Linked DNA regions of Homo sapiens: region 1 is linked to region 2. The links come from fine-mapping of genetic effects on gene expression. A gene starts in region 2. The other region holds a variant in brackets. All regions are shown on one strand. Distances are between the middles of the regions.

Evidence for each region. PIP is the estimated chance that this variant, and not a neighbour inherited with it, causes the effect.
Region 1: its variant is fine-mapped to the expression of SMIM7 in prefrontal cortex (GTEx, PIP above 0.99). The same link has a PIP of 0.9 or more in amygdala, atrial appendage, caudate, cerebral cortex and putamen.

Annotation. Positions count from the first base shown.
Region 1 is chr19:16,694,019-16,699,388 of GRCh38, forward strand. No RefSeq gene overlaps it. Among named protein-coding and RNA genes, the nearest start is that of NWD1, 23 kb to the right of the region's middle. The variant G/C (reference allele first, on the strand shown) is at 2,599.
Region 2 is chr19:16,658,135-16,663,504 of GRCh38, forward strand. SMIM7 (small integral membrane protein 7) reads right to left here and starts at 2,010. Exons shown (of 5, transcript NM_024104.4): 1 at 1,951-2,010; 2 at 1,825-1,866; 3 at 1,261-1,313. The coding sequence starts at 1,976. TMEM38A (transmembrane protein 38A) reads left to right here and starts at 3,005. Exons shown (of 6, transcript NM_024074.4): 1 at 3,005-3,207. The coding sequence starts at 3,084. RefSeq lists silencers at 2,603-2,802, 2,823-3,072 and an enhancer at 3,358-4,166.

The DNA of each region.
Region 1 (5,370 bases), 36 kb after region 2:
TTAAACATAGGGTGGTCATGGGTGACTCACACCTATAATCCCAGGGCTTTGGGAGGTGCAGGACGGAGGACTGTTTTAGCCCAGGAGGTTGAGGCTGCAGTGAGCTGTGATGGTGCCACTGTACTGAAGCATGGGTGACAGAGCAAGACTCTGTCTTTAAAAAAACAAAAATGTGAATAAATGAACAGCTGTGCTCCGCCCATAGTATTGCCTACTGTTCAGCGAAAAAAAAAAAAAGGCGGTGGAGGTGGTGAACATGCAAAAACATGAATGAGTCTCGAATGTATCCAGATTGGTGGGAAAAAGCCATACAAAAAAGAATGTGTAATATAGGCATCCATTTATCTGAAATCCTAGAAAAAGCAAACTATTGTAACAGAAAGCTGATCAGCATGTGGTTGGGGAAAGAAGGACAGGGTAGGGCAGGTGAGAGGAATTTTGCAGTGGCACCAGGAAACTCGGGTGATGGATCTGCTGATGGCTTTGATTGTGCTGGTTTCTTGGGTCTATACCCATGTCTGAATCTATTAAATTTTACTTTTGGGTTTTTGTTTTGTTTTGTTTTTTGAGATGGAGTCTTGCTCTGTCACCCAGGCTGGAGTGCAGTGGCACGATCTTGGCTCACTGCAACCTCTGCCTCCTGGGTTCAAGTGATTCTCCTGCCTCAGCCTCCTGAGTAGCTGGGATTACAGGTGCCCACCGCCATACCTGGCTAATTTTTGTATTTTTAGCAGAGACAGGGTTTCACCATGTTGGCCAAGCTTGTCTCAAACTCCTAACCTCAGGTGATCTGCCCGCCTCGGCTTCCCAAAGTGCTGGGATTACAGGCGTGGGCCACCGTGCCTGTGCCTGGTCTAAATTTTGCTTTGATTACTTAAGATTTAAAAAAAAATTAACTTTTTTCTTATTTATTTATTTAGAGAGACAGAGTCTCGCTCTGTCGCCCAGGCTGGAGGGCAGTGGTGCAATCTTGGCTCACTGTAACCTCTGCCTCCTGGGTTCAAGCAATTCTCCTGCCTCAACCTCCAGAGTAGCTGGGATTACAGGTGCCCACCACCACGCCTGGCTAATTTTTGTATTTTTAGTAGAGACGGTTTTGCCATATTGGCCCGGCTGGTCTCGAACTCCTTGCCTCAAATGACCCACCTGCCTCAGCCTCCCAAAGTGCTGGGATTACAGGCTTGAGCCACCACGCCGGCCTCTTTTTTATTTATTTTTAATTAATTATTTTTTACTTCTTTTTTTCCCACTCATTCAACCTAAGTACTTAAAAGTTTTCATTTTATATATGCATAGTTCATCTATCAGTTATGCCTCAGTAAAGCTATAAAAAAAGAAGCTTTCAATTATAAGGAAAAAAAGTCTGGGCATGGTGGCTCATGCCTGTAATCCCCGCACTTTGGGAGGCCGAGGCCAAAGGATCACTTGAGCTGAGGAGTTCATGACCAGCCTGGCCAACACAGTGAGACCCAGTCTCTGCAGAAAAAAAAAAAAAAAAAAATTAGCCAGTTGTGGTGATGTGAGCCTGTAATCCCAGCTACTCAGGAGGCAGAGGTGGGAGGATCGCTTGAGCCCAGGAGTTCGAGGCTGCAATGAGCTGAGATTGCACCACTGCACTCCAGCGTGGATGACAGAGTGAGACCCTGTCTCATAAATAAATGAATAGGCTGCAGTAACATACTCCAGACAGAGTCGCTTAAGCCACAGACATTTATTTTTCCCTAATTCTTGAGGGTGGAAGTTTGACATCAAGGTGTCAGTTGGTTTTGTTTCTCAAGGCCTCTCTGCTTGGGTGGCAGACGGCCGCCTTCTCTGTCCTCGTATAGTCTTCCCTCTTCGTATGTCTGTATCCTAGTCTCCTCTGCCTACGAGGACACCAGTGAATTAGATCAGGGCCCACCTATAGACTTTTTTTAAAACTTAATTATCTTTTTTTTTTTTTTTGAGATGGAGTCTGGCTTTGTGGCCTAGGCTGGCGTGCAGTGGCGCCATCTCGGCTCACTGCAACCTCCACTTCCCGGGTTCAAGTGATTCTCATGCCTCAGCCTCCCGAGTAGCTGGGATTACAGGCACGTGCCACCATGCCTGGCTAATTTTTGTATTTTTAGTAGAGATGGAGTTTCACCACGTTGGCCAGGCTGGTCTTAAACTCTTGATCTCAAGTGATCCACCCACCTCAGCCTCCCAAAGTGCTGGGATTACAGGCATGTGAGCCACCCTGCTTGACTGACTATTTTAACTTAATTGTCTCTTTAAAGACCTTATCTCAATCAGTTTGGTGCTAAAAAAATTTAAAAAAAAAAGACCTTATCTCCTGTTTTAGTCCTTTCAGTGTGCTACAACAAAATACTATAAACTGGTGGCTTGTAAACAACAGAAATTTATTTTTCATGGTTCTGGAGGCTGGGAAGTTCAAGATCAAAATGCTGGCAGATTCACTGTCTGGTAAGGGCTGGCTATCTGGTTCACAGATGGTGTCTTCTTTTGGTGTCCCCACATGGTAGAAAGATCAAGGAGTTTCTTGGGGGCCTCTTGTGGAAGGGCACTAATCCCATTATGAGGGCCACATCCTCATGACCTAATCACCTCCCAAGGGCC[G/C]CACCTCCTAATACCATCACCTTGGGGCTAATTTTGGACTCAGGTGATCTTCCTACCTTGGTCTCCCAAAACAAAGGGATGTGAGTCTCTGTGTCCAGCGTCCTTTAAGGATGGATTAAATTAAAGTAACTGACAATGCCTGGTGCAGGTAAAGATTTGGGGGCAGCTGGAGCTCGCACACTGCTGGTGGGAGACAATTGGACAGTTTCTTTTAAATTTATTTATTTATGTATTTATTTGAGATAGGGTATCACTCTGTCATCCAGGCTGGAGTCCAGTGGTGCAGTCATAGGTCACTTCAGCCTCGACCTCCTGGGCTCATGTGATCCTCCCGCCTCAGCCGCTTGAGTAGCTGGGACTACAGGCACACATCACCACATCCAGATAATTTTTGTATTTTTTATATAGATGATGTCTCGCCCTGTTGCCCAGGCTGGTCTGAAACTCCTGGGCTCAAGTGATCCTCCTGCCTCAGCCTCCCAAAGTGCTGAGATTACAGGTGTGAGCCACCTTGCCCAGACTGATAGTTTCTTATTAAATTAAACATCACTTACCCTATAAACACAACAATCCCTGATAGTTTCTTATTAAATTAAACATCACTTACCCTATAAACACAACAGTCCCATTGTGGTGAAACAAAAATTCACCTATTTTTTTTTTTTTTGGTAATCACCAAAAACTGGGAACATCCCAAATGTCCATCAGTTGGTAAGCGGATGAGCCACCTGGTTTATGCATGTGATGGAACATTACACAGCAATGAAAAGGAGTGACCTTCTACAGCAGTGTGGTTGAATCTCAAATGCATTTGCTAAATGAAAGAATCCAGACCCAAGAGACTGTGTGCTCCCATTGGCGGGACATTTTATCTTTAGAGATGGGGTATTGCTTTGTCACCCAGGCTGGAGTGCAGTGGCAGGAACATGGATCATTACAGCCTCAAATTCCCAGGCTCAAGGGATCCTCCCGCCTCACCCTCCTGAGTGGCAGGGATTGCAGGTGCGTGCCACATACTCGGCTGTAGGTCATTTTAGAAATACAAAATTTTGGGCTAGGTGCAGTGGCTCACACCTGTAATCCCAGCACTTTGGGAGGCCGAGGTGGGTGGATCATTTGAGGTCAGGAGTTTGAGACCAGCCTGAAACCCTGCCTCTACTAAAAATACAAAAATTAGCTGGGGGTGGCAGGTGCCTGTAGTCCCAGCTACTCAGGAGGCTGAGGCAGGAGAATTGCTTGAACCCAGGAGGCAGAGGTTGCAGTGAGCTGAGATCGTGCACCACTGCACTCCAGCCTGGGTGACAGAGCGAGACTCCGTCTCAAAAAAAAAAAAAAGAAAAGAAAAGGAAAGACAAAATTTTAAGTATAGAAAACAGATCAGTGGCTGCCAGGAGTTGAGATGGAAGGAGAGATTATCCACAAGAGAGACAGAGGAATTTTGGGAGGGAAGGGACTGTTCTGCATTTTTAACGTGGCAGTAGTTACACAACTGTATATGTTTGTATAAACTTGCAGAATTCGCCCGGCAGCGTAGCCCTTTTGGGAGGCTGAGGTGGGAGGATCACCTGAGGCCAGGACTTTGAGACTAGCCTGGGTATCATGGTGAAACCCCATTTCTGCAAAAAATACAAAAATTAGCCGGGCATGGTGGCATGTGCCTGTAGTCCTAGCTACTCAGGAGGCTGATGTGGGAGAATCACTTGAGCCTGGGAGGCAGAGGTTGCAGTGAGCCGAAATTGCACCACTGCACTGCAGCCTGGGCAACAGAGCCAGACCTGTCTCAAAACAACAAACAAAAAAACAAACAACAAACAAAACAAAAAACCCACAAAGAAACACTACAAAAAAAACCTTGCAGAATTTTGTGGCTAAATTCTACCTTAATCTAAAAAGAAAAGGAAAAAGAGAGCAGCCTTTGGGGTTTCCCAAATCTGTTCAAATCCTGTCTTTGTTTTTTTTTTTTTTTTTTTTTTTGACAGATTCTCACTCTGTTGCCCAAGCTGGAGTGCAGTGGTGCCATCTTGGCTCACTGCAACCTCCGCCTCTCGGGTTCAAGTGATTCTCCTGCCACAGCATCCCGTGTAGCTGGGATTGCAGGCAAGAGCCACCATGCCTGGCTAATTTTTGTATTTTTAGTAGAGTCAGGGTTTCAACATGTTGGCCAGGGTGGTCTTGAACTTCTGACCTCAAGTGATCCTACCCGCCTCGGTCTCCCAAAGTGCTGGGATTACAGGTGTTAGCCACCATGCCTGGCCAAACCCTGGCTTTTAATCTCCGAGATACGTAGCTTGGGCAAGTAACTCCCCTTCTCTGAGCCTCAATTTCCTCTTAGGATGGCTAGGAGGAGTGACTGGAAAGTCCTTGGCACAAAGTGAGGTCTGGAGTTGGGACAAAAGCTGCCTCTGTCAAAGTGCTCACAGAACCCCTGGTCGGGTTCATTTAGCATCTGGTGGGTGTTGGAGATAAGTCGGCTCCCTGCCTTCTGGCACTAATGTTCTGAGATCTCATTTTCCAAGAGAACAGATTGTACCAAAATAGCCTCCCAGCCTAGTCTGCGAAGGGGGTGTGCAAGCCACTGGCCAGGTGGAGAATGATTGGCGGGGCAGGCTGGGGCTGTTGTCCCAGTGTGGGTGTGAGAACTTGGAGGATCGGCTCTCAAAGTCCAGGCTAATTTGGCTGCAAGTTACACTCAGTAACTTCCTTGGTCTTGGAATGAGAGAAAGTTTCTTTTTATCCTTTTTAAAAAAAATTGTGGTAAAATACACAACATAA
Region 2 (5,370 bases):
CCTTCCCTTCCACACCCCAGCAGGAGGGCAACCCCATCACCATCCTGTGACTCCCTGCCTCTGTCACCTAACGTCACCTCTGTCACTATCTATTCCCTGCTTAGAAACCATGTGTCCCACCCCATGGTAAGTTCCACTCTATCTGTCTTACCCCTGCTGTACCCCAGCACCTAGCACAGTAGCCAGCATGCGTTAGGTACTCAAATATCTGGTGAATGAAAGAATTAATGAATGGATACAATAGTCATGTACAGATCCCCTTAAGACTCCAAATAGTTACACAATCAAATTCAGCAGGAAGTGTAAATTCTGGGGCCTCCAGGGCCCAGGCAGATGATAGACATATGAAGGGGTTAGGGCTGGGATGAGGCAGAGTCTACAGGCCCCACCTCCTCAGAGTCCTTCTCAACTACACTCAATAGATGCAAACAGCTCTCCTGAATCTTGAGTTGCAGAATGTTCCAATTTTTCAAGAAAAATCAGACATCTTAATTTTTATATAAAATCTCCTGATTAAAAATCTAATGTTGGCATCTAATTTTAAAAGTGGCAGGTCTGCAGCACTCTGAAAGCAACAGCTATGTGTGAGGTTGTTCATTCATTCATTCACAGGCATCGGAGGACGGGTACGGCAAGAACAAAGGATGGGACAAGCCAAGCTAGGGCCTCTTCTCTGAAGTTTACAGTCATATGTGAGGGGCAGACATTAGCCAGATGACAGCAAACATAACAGAACATTATAACGGTAGGAAGTGATGTGAGTGCTCACATCAGGGAGGTCTGGTAGGAGAAAGAAATAGATGACAGAGGTAGGCAGAAAGGCTAGCACATTCTCAGTCATCTCCCACTCACACACACGCTCAATTAAAGAGAAAACTTGTGGCTCACGCCTGTAATCCCAGCTCTTCGGGAGGCCAAGGCAGGGATCACTTGAACCCAGGAGTTCGAGACCGGCCTGGGCAACGTGGAGAAACCCCATCTCTACAAAAAATACAAAATTTAGCCTGGCATGGTGGCACACACCTGTAATCCCAGCTACTAAGGGGGCTGAGGTGGAAGGATCACTTTAGCTCAGGAGGTCGAGTCTGCAGTGAGCCATGATCGCACCACTGCACTCCAACCTGGACAACAGAGCAAGACCTTGTGTCAAAAAAAAAAAAAAAAAAAAAAGAGAAAGAAAGAAAACGAAGGTAGGGCTTGGCGAAACAGAACTGTCCTCTGAAGTGGACCATGCAATTCCAGGATCCAATTAGACCTTACCTGTGCTGGGCTCCCTGGACTCCTCCCCAAAGCCCTGCGTGTCCTTCTTTTTCCTACAAAGAGGAGCAGACAGTGTCCACTTTCAATGGGACATAGAGTCCTCAGCCCCCTGACCCCCAGCTCAGAAGGCCACAAACACTAAGTTTCAGCCCTGGCCCTGCCGCAAACTTGCTGTGTGACCTCTGACGTTCAATACCCTTCTCTGGGCCCCCACTGCCCGGACAATCACAGCCAGGTCAGCAGCCACCGACCGTTTACAAAGTGGCCCGACAGTGCGGGTGCAGGGCGGAAGGTCCGCGGTGGGGCTATTTCTTGGGGGATGGGGCTTAAGCTCTCCAGGAAGGTGAACAGAGGGACAACCAAGGAACGGAGAGTATGGGTTTAAGGTCTCTCGGGGGGTGGGGGGCGAGGAAGATAAACCAGGCTGGAGGCGTGCCCAGAGGGCGGATAGGGCGGGGCCTGCGGCTTGGGGGCGGGGCCTGAGAAGTGCGCCGAGATCACGCTTATGAGGGCGGGGCTACGGGTTCCCCGGATGGAGCCGCAGTCCGGCCGCGACCTACTCACAGCTTAAAGTTCAGCACCGCCCCGGCATTCATCAGCAACGTCCTGCAGAGGGAGAATTACAGTTACTAGGGGCGCCCCCGCGTCCTGCCTGGCTCTCTCTTCCCAGCCTCTGGTCCCCCTAATTACCCGAACAGCAGGATGTCTCCGATCATCGTTACGGCCGAAGCGTCCGTCAGAACCGGAAGCGGAAGCCCCAGGGAGGGAGGGGAGAGGAGCACAAGCCGACCAATCCTAAAGCAACAGTGGCGAGGGCTGGGCCAATCGAAGGTCAAGGCTGGGAGGGTCCCGCCCTCTGCAGGCCAGACCCCCTTAGGGGAGCGCGAGCGCCCCACCTCGCTGGGGAGGCCCCGAGAGCCAGAATGGGAGGAGCGGGGTCTCCTGGGGGCGGGATTGGGTCACGCGTTCGAAGCGTGCCGCGCATGCGTGAGGTCTCGATGCCGTAGGGTTAGCTGGGCAGCAATTCCTACTCACTTTCTGGGGTCCCAAATTGGGCTTCTGGACAAAAGGAATCCTTTGACTCCTGAGCTGCACAGGGTGCGGGGTCCTGACGCAGTGGGGTCCCTAGAAACGGGTGCCCCAACCAACTGGGCTCTAAAATGAGATCCTCCTGGGCCCCATGGGGAACGGGGGTTCCCACTGAGCTGCCCCCCACAAGACGTCCTGATTTGCAGAGCCCCACCGGAGACGGGGTTCCTGATCGAACGGACCCTATGGGGCAGAAAAGTCTTGACGGGGCTCCACAGAGGACCGAGGTCCTAACCTATCTCCACGGGGAACAGGGGTTCTGATTCATGGGGTCCCACCATGGCGTAGGGGTCCTCACTGGGCTCCACCGAAGATCGGGGTCCTAATTGAGCCCACGGGGACAAAGTCCTGGCCGATCCGGCCCCCTGGGAACGGGCGTCCCGCGTGGGTGGGCTCCGTGAGGGACGGGCCCCCAGAACAGGCAGCTCCCCAGCCTCCCTCGCCTTGCACGGGTGCCCCGCACCCCGCCTCGCTGGGCGGAACGGGGTAGCGATGGCAGGAGGGTCAACGCCTGGGACGCCCGACCGTCCAGCTGCGTCCGTGGTGCTGGGCGTCCCCACCACCTGTCCCGGGGTGGGCCGTCGCCCCTCCTCTCCCGCGGGGGCCGGGCCTGGGGTGGCGCCTGGCGGGCGGGGGCGGGCCCAGCTGCGGGGGCGCAGTCGCCGGGCCGCGGGCGGCGGGACGGACGAGGCCGGGGCCCCGGGTGGCACCCGGCAGGCGGGCAGGCGGGCGCCATGGAGCTGCTCTCGGCGCTGAGCCTGGGCGAACTGGCGCTCAGCTTCTCGCGGGTGCCGCTCTTCCCCGTCTTCGACCTCAGTTACTTCATCGTCTCCATCCTCTACCTCAAGTATGAGCCAGGTGAGCCGGGGCGGGGGGCTGGAGGGGACCGGCAGCGGGTGGCGCGGGCCGGGGCAGCTCGGGGGTCGCAGAGAGGGGAAGCCCGTGCGTGGTGGAGGGAGCGAGGGACAGGTTCAAGGATTGCATCGTGGGAGTAGGCAGGCGCTAGAATCGTGGGGTTCTCTCACGCCGGGGTGAGCCCGGGGGAGAAGCCCCCAGGACGATGAAGCTGGGGGAGGGGAAGGAGAGGCGTGCGCGGGTTTAGAGGAGGGGGAACAGGTGCTTGGGGTCGGGGCTCCTGGTTGGGTCAGAGCTGCAGGAACTTGGGCAAGGGGCGCCGGCTGTGGCGAGGGTGCAGGTGGGGGTCGGTGCATCTGTTCTGGCCGCGCGCAGGTGTGACCTCCCTCCTTGACCTTGGCACGCGGATTGAGAGCGCCAGCGGAGTGTCTATAAGGGCCACTGCGCTGGGGGCTGCGGTCAGGTTCAGCGAAAGTGACACCGGTTCTCCTCCCCACTGCAACTGCCCAGCACCCTCCACTCCCCTCCCTTCCCCCACGGTGCTGAATCTCCGAGCCCCCACGGGAATTCTTCCAGCCCTGGCTCCAGATCCTTTCCACTTACGGAGCAGAACCGGCCCCAAGGCTGGGTGACTTGGGGTCAGTGTCCTCCATCTCAGCTCCAGACTCCACGCTGGGGAGGTCACAGGAGGGTACAGCCTGCTTCTTAATTTTTAAAATGAGGATGAATGGCTTCCTTAGAACGTGTTCTATTTTTATAAAAGGTTCACCGTGAACAAATGTTTAAATGTTTCTTGTTCACCGTTATTCTAGAACACCAGCAACTTACTAGATAATAGATTTTAGGCTTAGAAAAATAAAGGAACCCCAAACTTCATAAGCCTTTCTCCCACTTAGATGTAAATTACCACTATAGCTCAGAAAGGAAATAGCTTTATTCTCAGAGGATAAAAATAAGCGCCCCTGTTTACTAAAAACTCAAACTGAAAAGGGCAAAGGAAAAAAAGAGAATTACTGTCAACATACTGGTGGCCAGCCACCTTTCTTGATGTCTCTTCTATTCATTTACGGCTATATAGTTATAAACGTAAATGCACGCTTTTTTTTTTTTTTTTTTTTTTGCGGTTTTTTTTTTAGATGGAGTTTCGCTCTGTCGCCCAGGCTGGAGTGCAGTGGCGTGATCTCGGCTCACTGCAACCTCCACCTTCCAGGTTCAAGCGATTCTCCTGCCTCAGCCTTCTGAGTAGCTGGGACTACAGGCACCCGCCACTACACTTGGCTAATTTTTGTATTTTTAGTAGAGACAAGCCTTCACCATGTTGGCCAGGATAGTCTCGATCTCCTGACCTTGTGATCCACCCACCTAGGCCTCCCAAAGTGCTGGGATTACAGACGTGAGCCACTGCACCCAGCCAATGCACGCTCTTATGCTAACAGGATTACACTCTATTTGCTAGGAATTTTTATTCTATTTTTGCCTATCCACATGCCAGAGCCTATTTTCTTAAAAGCTATCCTGGAGAACATTACTTTGCAAAACAAAATAGGCTTTTGTGTTGTCCTAGCATGAACATGGGGCTATCTTTCCTTTCTGGGGAAGAATTCTTGGTGGTTCAGGCCAGTTCCTTGGGCAGTTGCAGAACCTTAGAAAATCTGAAACTGGCTGGGCACAGTGGCTCACGCCTGTAATCCCAGCACTTTGGGAGGCCAAGACGGGCAGATCGCCTGAGGTCAGGAGTTCGAGACCAGCCTGGCCAACATGGAGAAACCCCGTCTCTACTGAAAATAAAAAAATTAGCCAGGCATGGTGGCACATGCTTGTAATCCTAGCTGCTTGGGAGGCTGAGGCAGGAGAATCACTTGAACCTGGGAGGCGGAGGTTGCAGTGAGCCGAGATCACGCCATTGCACTCCAGCCTGGGCGACAGAGCAAGACTCTGTCTCGAAAAAAAAAAAAATCTGAAACTGAGGAGGGTTGGAGCCCTGTGGGAATGTAGGACACAAATGTCTTGAGAAAAGAGGTCTCCAAGCTGCCTGGGAACTTGCAGGAAGGTTCAAGATATTTCTGCAGAAGTCCTAGAATAAGCCATCCAGGCTCTAAGTGCCAGAGCCTGAAGGTTCCTGAAGGCTGAGAAGTGGTTCCAAACCCTGGCTATTCATGAATTCAT